4 linked regions of the Homo sapiens genome follow. The protein of the gene in region 2 purifies or fractionates together with the protein of the main gene of each other region. This does not show direct contact. Each region holds a gene or a part of one and is shown on either strand. Other genes may lie near its edges.

Region 1 (3,500 bases), on a different chromosome or scaffold from region 2:
CAAACAGGTGATGGTTGAATTAGGAAGGTTTTGCTGAGAGTACACCATCGGTTTAGCTGGTCTCTCCTGTCCTTGTGTGGTATTTACCTGGCTTCTTGGTGATTTGTCTGTTTCTCTTACTACTTAAACCCAGCAAAAAAAATAATAAAATAACAATCAAATGCAATAAAACAAAGCAAGCATTCAGCAGGTGAAATAAACATACATCCCATAGACTCTTTGTGTCTGTTCTGTTTTCTTCTTGTTCCAATCCTTCTATCTGATTAGTTTCTTTTCTCTCAGATTTTTTCAGAGTTCGTTCCTCCTGTCACTTTAACTTATAGGAAGTCGGCCCATAATGTTTTGCTTATTTTTCCTTATGAGATTCATTCCATGATTCAACATTTCAGTGCCTTCCGTGCATTGGAATTCAGAGATGCCAAAATGAGTAAGATTGAATCCAGGTGAAGGCGATATGGGAATTCATTGTACTATTCTTGACATTTTTCTGTGAAGTTGATTTTTTTTTTTTTTTTTGAGGTGGAGTCTCACTTTGTAGCCCAGGCTGGAGTACAGTGGCGCGATCTTGGCTTACTGCATCCTCCGCCTCCCGAGTTCCAGTGATTCTGCTGCCTCAGCCTCCTGGGTAGCTGGGATTACAGGCACATGCCACCACGCCCAACTAATTTTTGCATTTTTAGTACAGACGGGGTTTCACCATGTTGCCCAGGCTGGTCTCGAACTCCTGACCTTAGGTGATCCAACCCTACCCCTTGGCCTCCTAAAGTGCTACGGTTACAGGTGTGGATTTTTTTTTTTTTTTTTTTGAGACAGAGTCTTGCTCTGTTGCCCAGGCTGGAGTGCAATGGTGAGATAACTCACTGGTGCGTCCATCTCCTGGCTCAAGCGATCGTCCCATGTCAGCTGTCCAAGTAGCTGGGACTACAGGTGTGTGCCACCATGCCCAGCTAATTTTTTATTTTTTGTGGAGATGGGGGTCTTGCTATGTTGTCCAGGCTGGTCTCCATCTCCTGAGCTCAAGTGATCCTCCCACCTTGGCCTCCCAAGTTGCTAAGATTACAGGCATGAGCCACTATGCCTGGCTGGAAATGAATTCTTTATATCAGAGCTTGCACAAGTGGGCTGAAACAGCCCACATGCATGTTTATTTGGCTCATAATGTTTTGTTTTTTAAATTTTTGAATTAGTTGTCAACATTGAAAAATGAGCAGATTTCTTATAAATACCTGATTGTGGTATTTTCTTGAAAATATCAATAAAGTCTGTTAACACCAAATCAGAATTCTGCATGGCAACAATTGTCCCACCACCCGAGTTAAGTGGAGACTTTGCCCTTTAAGAGGGAGGTGGGCCTGTCTAATGACTGGCTTCTCTCATTGTGTCTGTCACTCCTAGGCCTGTCAGCATTTGTACTTAGAATTCTACTTTAGTATTAACTTGTACAGTTGTGAAAACTCCTGTGGACTTCCTTGTATGCCATACTGGACTATACTTATTCTTTTTGTTTGTTTTTTTGTTTTTAGATAGAGTCTTGTTCTCTCACCCAGGCTGGAGTGCAGTGGTGCGATCTCAGCTCACTACAGCCTCTGCCTCCTGGGTTCCAGTGATTCTCCTGCCTCAGCCTCCTAAGTAGCTGGGATTACAGGTGTGTGCCACCACACCTGGCTAATTTTTGTATTTTTAGTAGGGATGGGGTTTCATATGTTGGCCAGGCTGGTTTCGAACTCCTGACCTCAAGTGATCTGCCTGCCTTGGCCTCCCAAAATGCTGGGATTACAGGCATGAGTCACCATGCCCAGTTTCTTTTTGTTTTAATCTGAAAAAAAGGGAATATATTATCTGCCTTTAGAAACTTCATAGTATGGTGAGAAAGCAGACATAAACAGATGACTACATTTCAACATGGGAGTCCTTAGAAGATAATATTTGTAGAGGTCTTCCCCTTTCCCAAAGCAGTGTGGCCCACTGCCTGCTATTGTAAATAAAGTTTTATTGGAATGCAGCAGCACCCTTTCACATACATATAGTCCATGGCTGTTTTCTTGCAGAGTTGAGTAGTTGTAAAAGAGACTTATGTGGCCCACGGGCCAAAAATATTTACTATCTGGGCCTGTACAGGAAACGTTTGCTGACTGTTGCCGTGGCAGATCTGATTTGATTCCTGAGACAGCTCAATGGGATACTGTGATTGTGTCTGTTTTATACCACACACCTAGTAGGTAGCAGAGCCAGGACTCAGTCGAATAAGGTCTACACTTGGTAGTATGTTATGGAAGGCCCATTTCAGCCTTGTTACTGCCAGTGTGTGGCCAGGTTCTCACACCTGGAGAGTGAGTCTGTGGGGAAGAACTGGCCACTGGGCTGATGGAATAATATACATTTTGAAAGGTACCCGTTTTGACTACATTCCCAGCTCCCTCAGCATCTGGTCCCATGACTGCTTCTCTCTTTCCAAATGGGAGTAGGCTAATGCAGAGCAATGTGGTTGGTTGCAAGGAAGAACTTGAAACTGTTTGCAGAGCACTTTATGTAAAAGTAAGAAAGTGTGACTACTGATGTCCCATGGGGCTTTGCAGCTTTAACAATTGCCCTATGGATCATATCACCTTGAAGTATAGAATTTCTCTGGGGAATTAGCTCCCCTCCAGTCTCATCTTTTTAGACACTTGCCTACCTGCTCTCACACCCAGAGGTTTTACACTGCGCTGTACAGTGTCTATCAATATGTTTTTCCATATTCAAAAATAGTGATTTCAGGCCAGGCATGGTGGCTCATGCCTGTAGTCCTAGCACTTTGGGAGGCTGAGGCAGGAGGATCAGTTGAGCCCAGGAGTTTGAGATCAGCCTGGGCAACACGGTGAGACCCCACCTCTACAAAAAATTGTTAAAAATTATTTGGGCATGTTGACACATGCCTGTGGTTTCAGCTACTCGGGAGGCTGAGGTGGGATCACCTTAGCCCAGGAGGTTGAGACTACAGTGAGCTGTGATCATGCCACTGCACTCTAGCCTGGGCAACAGAGCAAGACCCTGTCTCAAAAAAAAAAAAAAAATAGTAAGGTCATGGTGGCTCATACCTATAATCTCAGCACTTTGGGAGGCCGAGGCAGGCGGATCACTTGAGGTCAGAAGTTTGAGAACAGCCTGGCCAACATGGTGAAACCCCGTCTCTAGTAAAAATACAGAAATTAGCCAGGCATGGTGGCACCTGCCTATAATCCCAGCTTCCTGGGAGACTGAGGTGGGAGAATCATTTGAATCCAGGAGGCAAAGGTTGCAGTGAGCCTAGATCGCGCCACTGCACACCAGCCTGGGCGACAGAGCGAGACTCTGTATAAAAAAAATAAATAAATAAAAAATCCAGGTGTGGTGGCTCACGCCTGCAATCCCAACACTTTGGGAGACTGAGGCGGGCAGATCACGAGGTCAGGAGTTCAAGACTAGCCTGGCCAACATGGTGAAACCCCGTCTCCACTAAAAATACAAAAATTAGCCGGGCG
Region 2 (3,500 bases):
AATCAGCCAGGTGTGGTGGCACATGCCGGTAGTCTCAGCTACTTGGGAGGCTGAGGCCCAGGAGGCAGAAGTTGCCATGAGCTGAGATTGCACCACTGCACTCCAGCCTGGATGACAGAGGGAAACTCCATCTCAAAAAAAAAAAAAAGAAAGATTTTCTAAGATCCCTTCTGATTTCTTTTTTGACCCATGGGTTATTTAGAAGTGCAGTGTTTAATTTCTAAGTTTTGGGGGGTTTTCTGAATATCTTTTTGTTGTTTATTTCTAATTTAATTACACAGTGGTCAGAGAACATACTATCTAAGATTTTAATCTTGAAATATATTGAGACTTATTTTATGTTTCAGCACATTTCAGTGAATGTTCAATATGCTGGGTTTTAAGAGACAGAGTCTCGCTCTGTCACCCAGACTGCAGTGCAGTGGCACAATCTTGGCTCACTGCAGCATTGACGTCCTGGGCTCAAGCCATCCTCATGCCTCAGCTCCAAAAGGAGCTGGGACTACAGGTACACGCCACCATGACTGGCTAATTTTTGTGTTTTTTCGTAGAGATGGGGTTTTGTCATGTTGTCCAGGCTGGTCTCACACTCCTGAGCTCGGGCAATCCGCCTGCCATGGCCTCCCAAAGTGCTGGGATTACAGGCGTGAGCCACCATACACAACCCATCAATACATTCTTGTTCCATGTTGTTGATTATAGTGTTCTATAACCGTCAACAAAGTCAAGGTTATGACATTATTCAGATCATCTATGTCTTTATTGATTTTCTGCCAAATTGTTCTATCATTACTGAGAAAAGGGTATTAAAATCTCTAACTATAACTGTGAATTTGTCTATTTCTCCCTTTCATCTGTCAGATTTTGCTTTATGTAGTTTAAAGAACTATTATTAGGTCCATATACACTTAGGATTATCCTCTCTTCCTTTTTCTCTTTTTTTTTTTTTTTTTTGAGGCGGAGTCTCACTCTGTCGCCCAGGCTGGAGCGCAGTGCACAATCTTGGCTCACTGCAAGCTCCGCCTCCCGGGTTCATGCCATTCTCCTGCCTCAGCCTCCCGAGTAACTGGGACTACAGGCATGCGCCACCACGCCTGGCTAATTTTTTTTATTTTTAGTAGATACGGGGTTTCACCATGTTAGCCAGGATGGTCTCGATCTCCTGACCTCGTGATCCGCCCGCCTCGGCCTCCCAAAGTGCTGGGATTGCAGGCGTGAGCCACCGCACCCAGCTATCCTCTCTTCCTAATGAACGGACTCTCTAACACTATAACGTGTCCCCTTTGTCTCTGGTAATACTCCTTGTCTTATATTTTTGTCTGACATGAATATAACTACAGCGACTTTCTTATGTAAACTGTTTGTAGGATGCATCTTCTTTCATCCTTTTATTTTCAACTATTCATATCTTTATATTTAAAGTGCATATCTTTTAGACAATATATATTTGGGTCTTGGATTTTTATCCAGTCTGACAATCTGATATTTAACTGGAGTGTTTAGCCTCACTGATATTTAGTGTAACTACTGATATGGTTGGGTATAAGTCTACCATCCTGCTATTCATTTTTGTCTCTCCCTCCTATTCTTGTCCTGTTTCTTCTCTCCTGTTTCTGAGTGAATAATTTTTTTAAAATTCCATTTAATTCCTCTATTTTTTTTTAGCTATACCTCCTTTATTAGAAATTTTTGAAATAGCTGCTCTCTAGGTTACAACATAAAAACCTCATGATAGTCAATTTACACTGAACATCACTTTTGTGCCATTGTTGTCATATATTTTACATATATAATATATCCCATAATACAGTTTTTTTCATTAAGTGGTCAGTTATCTTTCAAAAAAATTAAAAGAGGAAAAAAAGGCAGTCTTTTATATTTACCCAAATATTTATCATTTCCAGTACACTTAATTTCTTCTTATAGGTTTGATTTTCCATCTAATATTATACCTCTTCAACCTGCAGGATTTCCTTTAGCATTCCTTATGATGCAGGTCTACTTGTGATGAAAAATGCCTTTATCCTATCTTCATTTTTGGAAGATAGTTTAGCTAGACACAGAATTCTGGGTTGACAGGGTTTTTAAATATTTGCTTGTTTCTCCCTTCCCCAGTATTTAAAAGATATTGCTCCATTGTTGTCTGGCTTCCACTGTTTGTGATGTAAAGTCAGCTGTCATTAGCACTATTGTTCCTCTGTATATAATAGTTTTTATTTCCTTCTAGCTATTTTAAATATTTTTTTCCTTTTTCAGCAGTTTGACTAAGATACAATGTCTGTATTTATCTAGCTTGGGGCTTGCTGAGTTTTTTGGGTCTATAAGTTGGTATTTTAAAATAAAATTGGGAAAAATTCAGCTCAAAAGTAGAAACAACCCAGATGTCCATCAACTGATGAATGCGTAAATAAAATGTGCTATATCCATACAATGAAATCTTGACAATAAATAAGAATGAAGTACTGATATGTGCTACAACATGGATTAACCCTGAGAACATGTAAGTGAAAGAAACCAGGCCAGGTGTGTTAGCACATGCCTGTAATCCAAGCACTCTGGGAGGCCAAGGCAGGTAGGTTGCTTGAGGTCAGGAGTTCAAGACCAGCACAGCCAACATGGTAAAACCCTGTCTCTACTAAAAATACAGAAATGAGCCAGGTGTAGTGGTGCACACCTGTAGTCATAGCTACTTGGGAGGCTGGGACATGAGAATCACTTGAACTCAGCAGGCAGAGGTTGCAGTGAGCTGAGACTGCACCACTGCATTCCAGCTTGGATGACAGAGCAAGACTCTGTCTCAAAAAAACAAAAAACGAAAGAAAGAAACCAGTCACGGCTGGGGGTTGTGGCTTACGCCTGTAATCCCAGCACTTTGGGAGGCTGATGCAGGTGGATCATGAGGTCAAGAGATCAAGACCATCCTGGCCAACATGGTGAAACTCCGTCTATACTAAAAATACAAAAATTAGACGGATGTGGTGGGGCCTGCCTTAATCCCAGCTACTCGGGAGGCTGAGGCAGGAGAATCGCTTGAACCCAGGAGGCAGAGACTGCAGTGAGACAAGATTGCGCCACTGCACTCCGACACTGTTTCAAAAGAAACCAGTCACAAAAGACCACATGTGTATGGTTCTATTTATATGAAATGTCTCAATAGATAAAATCTACAGAAACAAAGTAGATTAATGCTTGCCTAGGGCTAGTATGGATGGGAAAATACAGGGTGACTGATAACAAGTGTGGGGTTTCTTGTGTGGGGTTTCTTTTTGGGATGATGAAAACGTTCTAAAATTGATTGTGGAGATGGCTATGTAACTCTGTGAATAGGCTGGAAGCCACTGAATTGTATATTCTAAATGGGCGAATTGTATGGTATGTGAATAATATGTCAATAAAGTTGTTACCCACCCCCAAAAAAAGGCCAGAACTACTTTTTTTTTTTTTTTAAGAGACAGGGTCTTGCTCTCTCACTCAGGCTGGAGTACAGTGGCACAAACTTC
Region 3 (3,500 bases), on a different chromosome or scaffold from region 2:
CCTCTGAAGTAGCCAGGACTGCAGGTGTGTGCCACTACCCCCAGCTAGTTTTTAAATTTTTTGTAGAGATGGGGTTTTGTCATGTTGCCCGGGCTGACCTGGAACTCTTGAGCTCAAGCAACCCACCCACCTTGGCCTCCCAAAGTGCTGGGGATTACAGGTGTTCGCCACGGGATTTAAATCCAGGCAGTTTGACTCCAGAACTTGCCCTTTGACCACTCTGCTAGACTATTTCGTATGGGTTTTTTAAAGCAAACTTTGAAATCAAGTAGTCAAGCTCTTTATAGTGATGCTATTGTAAAGCTCTAAAGGCTTGACACTATTAATAATATGTATATATCAACATTACTACACAGAATTCTGCAAGTTTCCCCTCCCCCACTTTATTGATGAGAAAAATGAAACATCTAAGTCAATGGCTTCCAGACTTTTGGACTTTGCCAACAAGTAAAAAACTGTTATGTGTGGGGGACAATTGGGACCAGACGTAAGATCTCCAACTTTTATTTCTGTCAAGGTTGAGAATCTTCTTAAACACTACTGCAATCTGGTCAGGCACATTGGTTCATGTCTGTAATCCCAGCACTTTGGGAGCCAGAGGTGGATGGATCACTTGAGGTCAGGAGTTCGAGACCAGCCTGCCCAACATGGTGAAACCCCGTCTCTACTAAAAATACAAAAATTTGCTGGGCATGGTAGCACACACCTATAATCCCAGCTACTCAGTAGGCTGAGGCAGGAGAATCGCTTGAACCTGGAAGTCAGAGGTTGCAGTGAGCTGAGATCACACCACTGTACTCCAGCCTGGGCGACAGTGATTTTTGAGACTCTATCTCAAAAAAACAAACAAAAAAACTACTGCAATCTACTGTCCTGATCCTTTCCTTAAAAAAGGGACATTTTTACCACCACAAAGGTAGGAAGGTCATAGTTACAACATAAAAACAGAATAAATTTAATATTATGAAAAACTATATTACATTGTGTTAGTTTTTCCTCCTTTGGTCATAGACCAGTCAAAAACATGTCCTAAACTAACACCAATTCAGAGATCATTCAGGAATGCCTGGGTGACACAACTGATTCTGAACTGGTAATTAGCTGAGTCCAGTCCAGATTCACTCTCCAGTCTGTCTGACAGCAAAGCCTGTGCTTGTTGCCCTGTCATGAGCTCTTTCTAGTGAACAGTGTCTAGGGTTTTGGTCTCCTGTGAACAGTCTTTCTCAGGTGTTGACTATTTCCTTCTCCCTCCAGGTAGGGGGCCAGGGAGAATAGTCTCCAGCAGCCAATGTCTTAACAGCTTTAGTCCCAGTCCAGTTTGTAAATACCACCCAGAGGGTGAGTTCCACTGCTTCCCTGTTTGAGGTAGTTCTTTTGTCTGTGCTTACTCATGGAAGGGGCAAGGCAGTGACCATACCAGGGCAAGAAACCACGGGCATATTCCAGTATTCAAGAAACTCTCCTGCTGGGTGTGGTGGCTCACACCTGTAATCCCAGCACTTTGGGAGGCCGAGGCGGGCGGATCACCTGAGATCAGGAGTTTGAGACCAGCCTGGCCAATATGGTGAAACCCCATCTCTACTAAAAATACAAAAAAGTAAACGGGCATGGTGGTGGGCACCTGTAGTGCTAGCTACTCGGGAGGCTGAGGCAGGAGAATTGCTTGACCTAGGAGGTGGAGGTTGCAGTGAGCCAAGATTGTGCCATTACACTCCAGCCTGGGTGACAGAGCAAGACTCTGTCTAAAAAACAAAAAAAGAAACTCTCCAGTAAATAGCTTGATTTTACTTAGTCATTCAAAATTCGAATCCCCACCTTCTTTTATTTCCTGTTTTTACTTCACTCACTCCTATAGTTCTCCTTCTGTCATCTTTGTGTAACATAAGGAGTTAGGTGTGTGTTTTCCTCGTTCTGTCTTGTCTCCAGCAGATATTAAGCCCACCTGTCTGTTTCTGTCTGTAAGTGTTCTAAGTTCCAATTTCGGCAAAGATTGTTTTTTTCCTTAAGTTTTTTTTTAATTATGCCTACTAAAGACACTATTAAAATTACTTTTATATTTTATTTTACTCTATCACTTGCTAATAAAATTATCTAATAGTTTGAATAATATATGTTTTATCTTTAATTATAATACTCTTTTGCATATATTCTCTCATTTAATCATCACAGTTTTCTATGAGGTAGATTTGAGAGGTGGTGTTATCTTTATATACAAGCCAAATTCATTATTTTATTTATTTGTTTATTTTGAGACAGAGCCTCAATCTGTCATAAGGCTAGAGTGCAGTGGCGTGATCTCAGCTCACTGCAACCTCTGCCTCCTGAGTTCAAGCAATTCTCCTGCTTCAGCCTCCCGAGTAGCTGGGACTACAGGCACGCACCACCATGCCCGGCTAATTTTTGTACTTTTAGTAGAGACTGGGTTTCACCATGTTGATCAGGATAGCTTTGAAATCTTGACGTCATGTTCCACCTGCCTCGGCCTCCCAAAGGGCTGGGATTACAGGCGTGAGCCACTGCGCCAGGCCCAAATTCATTATTTGATAGGAGCAAGATTTTAACTAGGAGTTGAAAATAGAAGATTTCGTATATCAGCAACCTGATCTTAACTACTGATTCCAAAATGTATTTTTTGGGGATTGCCTTTGATTCAAAATAAAATGTATTCCATACCATTTTAGATTTGCCTACCTTGCAGTACTAATCACCAAAGTTTGTGTGTGTTTGTGTGTGTGTGTGTGTGTGTGTGTGTCTGAAACGGAGTTTCGCTCTTGTTGCCCAGGCTGCAGTGCAGTGGTGCAATCTCGGCTCACTGCAGCCGCCGCCTCTCGGGTTCAAGCAATTCTCCCACCTCAGTCTCCCGAGTAGCTGGGATTGCAGGCGCCGGTCACCACACCCAGCTAATTTTTTGTGTTTTTAGTAGAGACAGGGTTTTGCCATGTTGGCCAGTCTGATCCCGAACTCCTGGTCTCAGGTGATCTGCCTGCCTCAGCCTCCCAAAGTGCTGGGATTTCAGGCATGAGCCACCACGCCAGGCCCAAAGTTTTAACTGTAGTAAATAATGCTATCTCTCCTGGAAGAGCCACATAAACATATGATGAATTCTTTTAGAACTTCTTTTTAGCTGGGTGTGATGGCTCATGCCTCTAATCCCAGCAACTCACAGGCTGAGATCGGACGATTGCTTGAGGCCAAGAGTTCAAGACCAGCCTGGGCAACATAGCAAACGCCAGCTGTACAAAATATTAAAATTAGCCGGGCACAGTGGCTTGTACCTGTAGTCTCAACTACTTGGGAGGCTAAAGCAGGTGAATCACTTGAGCCCAGGAGTTCAAGACTGCAGTTAGCTGTGATTATACAACTGTATTCCAGCCTGAGTGACAGAGTGAGATACTGTCTCTAAAAAAAAAAATATATAAAACTTTTTTTAAATGACAATTTATAAAATTTAAATGGTTTTTTTTCATCACTTAGCAGAGTATCAACCATCCCAATTTTGT
Region 4 (3,500 bases), on a different chromosome or scaffold from region 2:
GGAGTTTGAGACCAGCATGGGCAACACAGTGAAACCCTGTCTCTACCAAAAAAACAAAAAATAAATACAAAAATTAGTCGGGCATGGTGGCATGGGCCTGTAGTCCCAGCTACTCAGGAAGCCGAAGTGGAAAGATCACTTGAGCCCAGGAGGTTGAGCCTGCAAGTGAGCTGAAATAGCACCACTGCACTACAGCCTGGGTGACAGAACAAGACCGTGTCTCAAAAAAAAAAAAAAAAAAAGATGCTGTGGAATAGGGGATAAGGAAATTCCAGGAGCCCTCCTAGAGGAGGTTGGACTTCTAAGGCATTTGGATTGAGATACTAAGAGAGGAAGCTAGAGGAGAACTCAGGGACAGAGAAAAAGTTGGATGTGGCCACTGAGAGGATTTGTGTTTAGGAGCCTGGAGCTTACTGCTTATAAGAAGGGATGAATTAGGTGAAAGGGACCTTGAGACAAAGGGAAATAAAAACTCTTAGAGTAATGAAAAGTGAAAATTATTCCCATTTATGTAAAATATATATATTTATGTATGTAGATTCATAGAAAAAAGAGTTAATAGTTTACTCTGGAAAGGGGAAAGGAAAAAGATGGGGGATAAAAAGGAAACTTTCATGTTTTACTCTATATAATTGTGTGTTGTTTGAATCATTTACATTAAGAATTACTTGTGAGCCGTGCCTGTAATCCCAGCACTTTGGGAGGCCGAGGCGGGTGGATCACCTGAGGTCAGGAGTTGGAAACCAGCCTGACGTGAAACCCGTCTCTACTAAATACAAAAAAATTAGCTGGGCGTGGTGGCACATGCCTGTAATCCCAGCTTTCTGGGAGGCTGAGGCAGGAGAATCGCTTGAACCTGGGAGGCAGAGGTTGCAGTGAGCCAAGATCGCATGCCATTGAACTCCAGACTGGGCAACAAGAGTGAAATGCCATCTCAAAAAAAAAAAGAATTACTTGTATAGGCCGGGCACAGTGTCTCACTCCTGTAATCCCAGCACTTTGGGAGGTCAAGGCGGGTGGATGACCTGAGGTCAGGAGTTCAGGACCAGCCTGGCCAACATGGTGAAACCCCGTCTCTACTAAAAATATAAAAATTAGCCGGGCATGGTGGAACGTGCCCGGAATCCCAGCTACTCGGAAGGCTGAGGCAGGAGAATTGCTTGAACCCGGGAGGGGAGGTTGCAGTGAGGTGAGAACGCGCCACTGCACTGCAGCCCCGGCGACAGAGTGAGACTCCATCTAAAAAAAAAAAAAAAGAAGAATTATTCGTATAATACTGAAATTTGACCCTCCTTAAAAAAAGAAGCCCTATGCTCTTTGTGGGCCCAGACGGTGTTGGTTAATGTGTAGCACATCTCCTTTTCTGAGGAGCTTTACCAGGTGCATATTAAAAATTTCCAATACATGCTGGGCGTGGTGGCTCACGCCTGTGATCCCAGCACTTTGGGAGGCTGAGACGGGCTGATCACAAGGTCAGGAGTTCGAGACCAGCCTGACCAACATGGTGAAACCCCATCTCTACTAAAAACAGAAAAATTAGCCTGGTATGGTGGCACACACCTGTAATCCCAGCTACTCAGGAGGCTGAGACAGGAGAATCGCTTGAACCTGGGGAGGCGGAGGTTGCAGCGATGAGATTGTGCCACTGCACTCCAGCCTGGGCGGCAGAGTGAGACTCTGTCTCAAAAAAAAAAAAAAGAAAAAAGAAAATTCCAATATACAAGCATTTTGAGGTTTTTCTAGAGCACAAGGTCAACCCCTATGTGTATAGGGGTGTGTGTGTGTGTGTATGTGTGTGTGTGTGTGTGTGTGTGTGTGACAATTTGTGAAGAGTTCAGGATTAGGATGTGTTGGGATAGGGAAATGTTGGAAGAGATTTCTGCAGGGTATGATGGTCAGAGTGAATGTACCAGGTGTTGAGAGTGAGGAATTTCTCGGGTGGAGTCTTCGAAGAGTGATTGAAACCCTCTACTTCTGTCTTAGGGGAAGTTGGTTAACCACCCGTGTCCACCCTATGCCTTGGCATGGGCAACCAATAGCATCGTGGCTGCAGGCTGTGATCGGAAAATTGTAGCCTATGGAAAAGAAGGTCACATGCTACAAACTTTTGATTATAGCCGTGACCCTCAGGAGCGGGAGTTCACCACAGCTGTATCAAGTCCTGGGGGCCAGTCTGTTGTGCTAGGAAGTTATGACAGGTAAGTCCCCTTTCCAGTTTTATCTACTGCCTACTTTCCCTGCGAACACTCTCTGCTTTAGCCAAATTATTCTGAGCCAGAGTGCGAGACTGGAGCAGAATCAAATGTATGTATGTAATTCATGCGCTTTCCTCTTCCTGCTCCCGCTATCCATTGGTGTGCTGGCAGTTCCAAAATGTCCTGGGCTCTTGTTTTGTCTCTGTGCCGCTCCCTGCACTTCCACAGCAGAATTCATCTCTATTTTCTGTTTCCATTGCCCCCTTTGAGACCGCTTAGAGTTTCTCACATTATATTACAGTTTGTTGTTTGCAAACTACTGTTGTTTAGCCAGATAGATGGCTAAATCAGAGTCCTTGAGAAGGGGGCTTATTATTCATCTTTTCAGTGCCTAGATTAGCATCTATATGCTATATATATTTAAGATATGCTCAGATGTTTGGCGAATGAATGAATGAATGATGGAACAGCAGATAAACAGCCATGTTCCAGGTCTCATCATTTCTCTGGCATGTGTTTAACCCCAGCTTTATCAGTCCTGTCTTTCTATCCCCTTCAATCTTATGTCTCCTTGTATTCTCTTCTTTCTTCACTGACTCCTACCATTTATCTCCTTGTTCCATATTTTTTTGCTCCTAGTAGCTTATTTTTCTCACCTGCCCTGGTCTTTTTGTTTTCTCTGCTCCCCTCACTCTTATTCTGTTTTAGTTTTGCCTTGATTTTCCCAGCTTATTTCCTGTGCACCTTTATATCCTCTTCTGCTAGACTGCCTAGCTTGTCTGTTCTTTTTATTTCCTTTCTTTTCTGATATAGCAAGACTAATTTCCTTTGGTTATCAGCCCATTTGCACTCTTTAGCTCAGCCTCAATCTCTTCTAAAAGCCACATACTTTATTTCAGGCTTCGGGTGTTCAACTGGATCCCTCGAAGAAGCATCTGGGAAGAGGCAAAGCCCAAGGAGATTACCAATTTATACACCATCACTGCCTTGGCCTGGAAGCGGGATGGCTCACGGCTCTGTGTGGTGTGTTACTAGTAATCCCTTTCTGGATTGGTGACTTTCACCAAACTAGAAAAAAATCCTGCCTTATCCTAAAGCACTGTTCCCTGACACTATAGAATCTCCTCTTTCCTTTTGACCCTGACCTAAAATTCTGGCATTAAAGGCAGGAAAGAGAAATTCATACTTTACCCTAGGTCACAAAAGGGACAAAAAATTGTGTGTAGGCAGGGCTAGTTTTTCCCTTTTATCCCATTAATATGTTGTGCCCTTGAGTCCAATGATTGTAGCCTCTTTCCTTTTGGT

What was found. Proteins that work in one complex are often made in the same cells at the same time.
Region 1: the proteins of IFT25 (region 2) and KATNIP purify together in Homo sapiens (tandem affinity purification; one large-scale study listed by IntAct). This does not show direct contact.
Region 3: the proteins of IFT25 (region 2) and ME2 purify together in Homo sapiens (affinity purification with mass spectrometry; one large-scale study listed by BioGRID and IntAct). This does not show direct contact.
Region 4: the proteins of IFT25 (region 2) and IFT172 purify together in Homo sapiens (affinity purification with mass spectrometry; 2 studies listed by BioGRID and IntAct, with this or other methods). This does not show direct contact.

The regions. Positions count from the first base shown.
Region 1 is NC_000016.10:27,556,644-27,560,143, forward strand, and holds part of KATNIP (katanin-interacting protein), read left to right. Parts: intron 1-3,500. UniProt on the Homo sapiens protein: May influence the stability of microtubules (MT), possibly through interaction with the MT-severing katanin complex.
Region 2 is NC_000001.11:53,932,200-53,935,699, forward strand, and holds part of IFT25 (intraflagellar transport protein 25 homolog), read right to left. Parts: intron 1-3,500. UniProt on the Homo sapiens protein: Component of the IFT complex B required for sonic hedgehog/SHH signaling.
Region 3 is NC_000018.10:50,882,118-50,885,617, forward strand, and holds part of ME2 (NAD-dependent malic enzyme, mitochondrial isoform 1 precursor), read left to right. Parts: intron 1-3,500.
Region 4 is NC_000002.12:27,479,744-27,483,243, reverse strand, and holds part of IFT172 (intraflagellar transport protein 172 homolog), read left to right. Parts: intron 1-1,983; coding exon 1,984-2,198; intron 2,199-3,094; coding exon 3,095-3,218; intron 3,219-3,500. UniProt on the Homo sapiens protein: Required for the maintenance and formation of cilia. Plays an indirect role in hedgehog (Hh) signaling, cilia being required for all activity of the hedgehog pathway.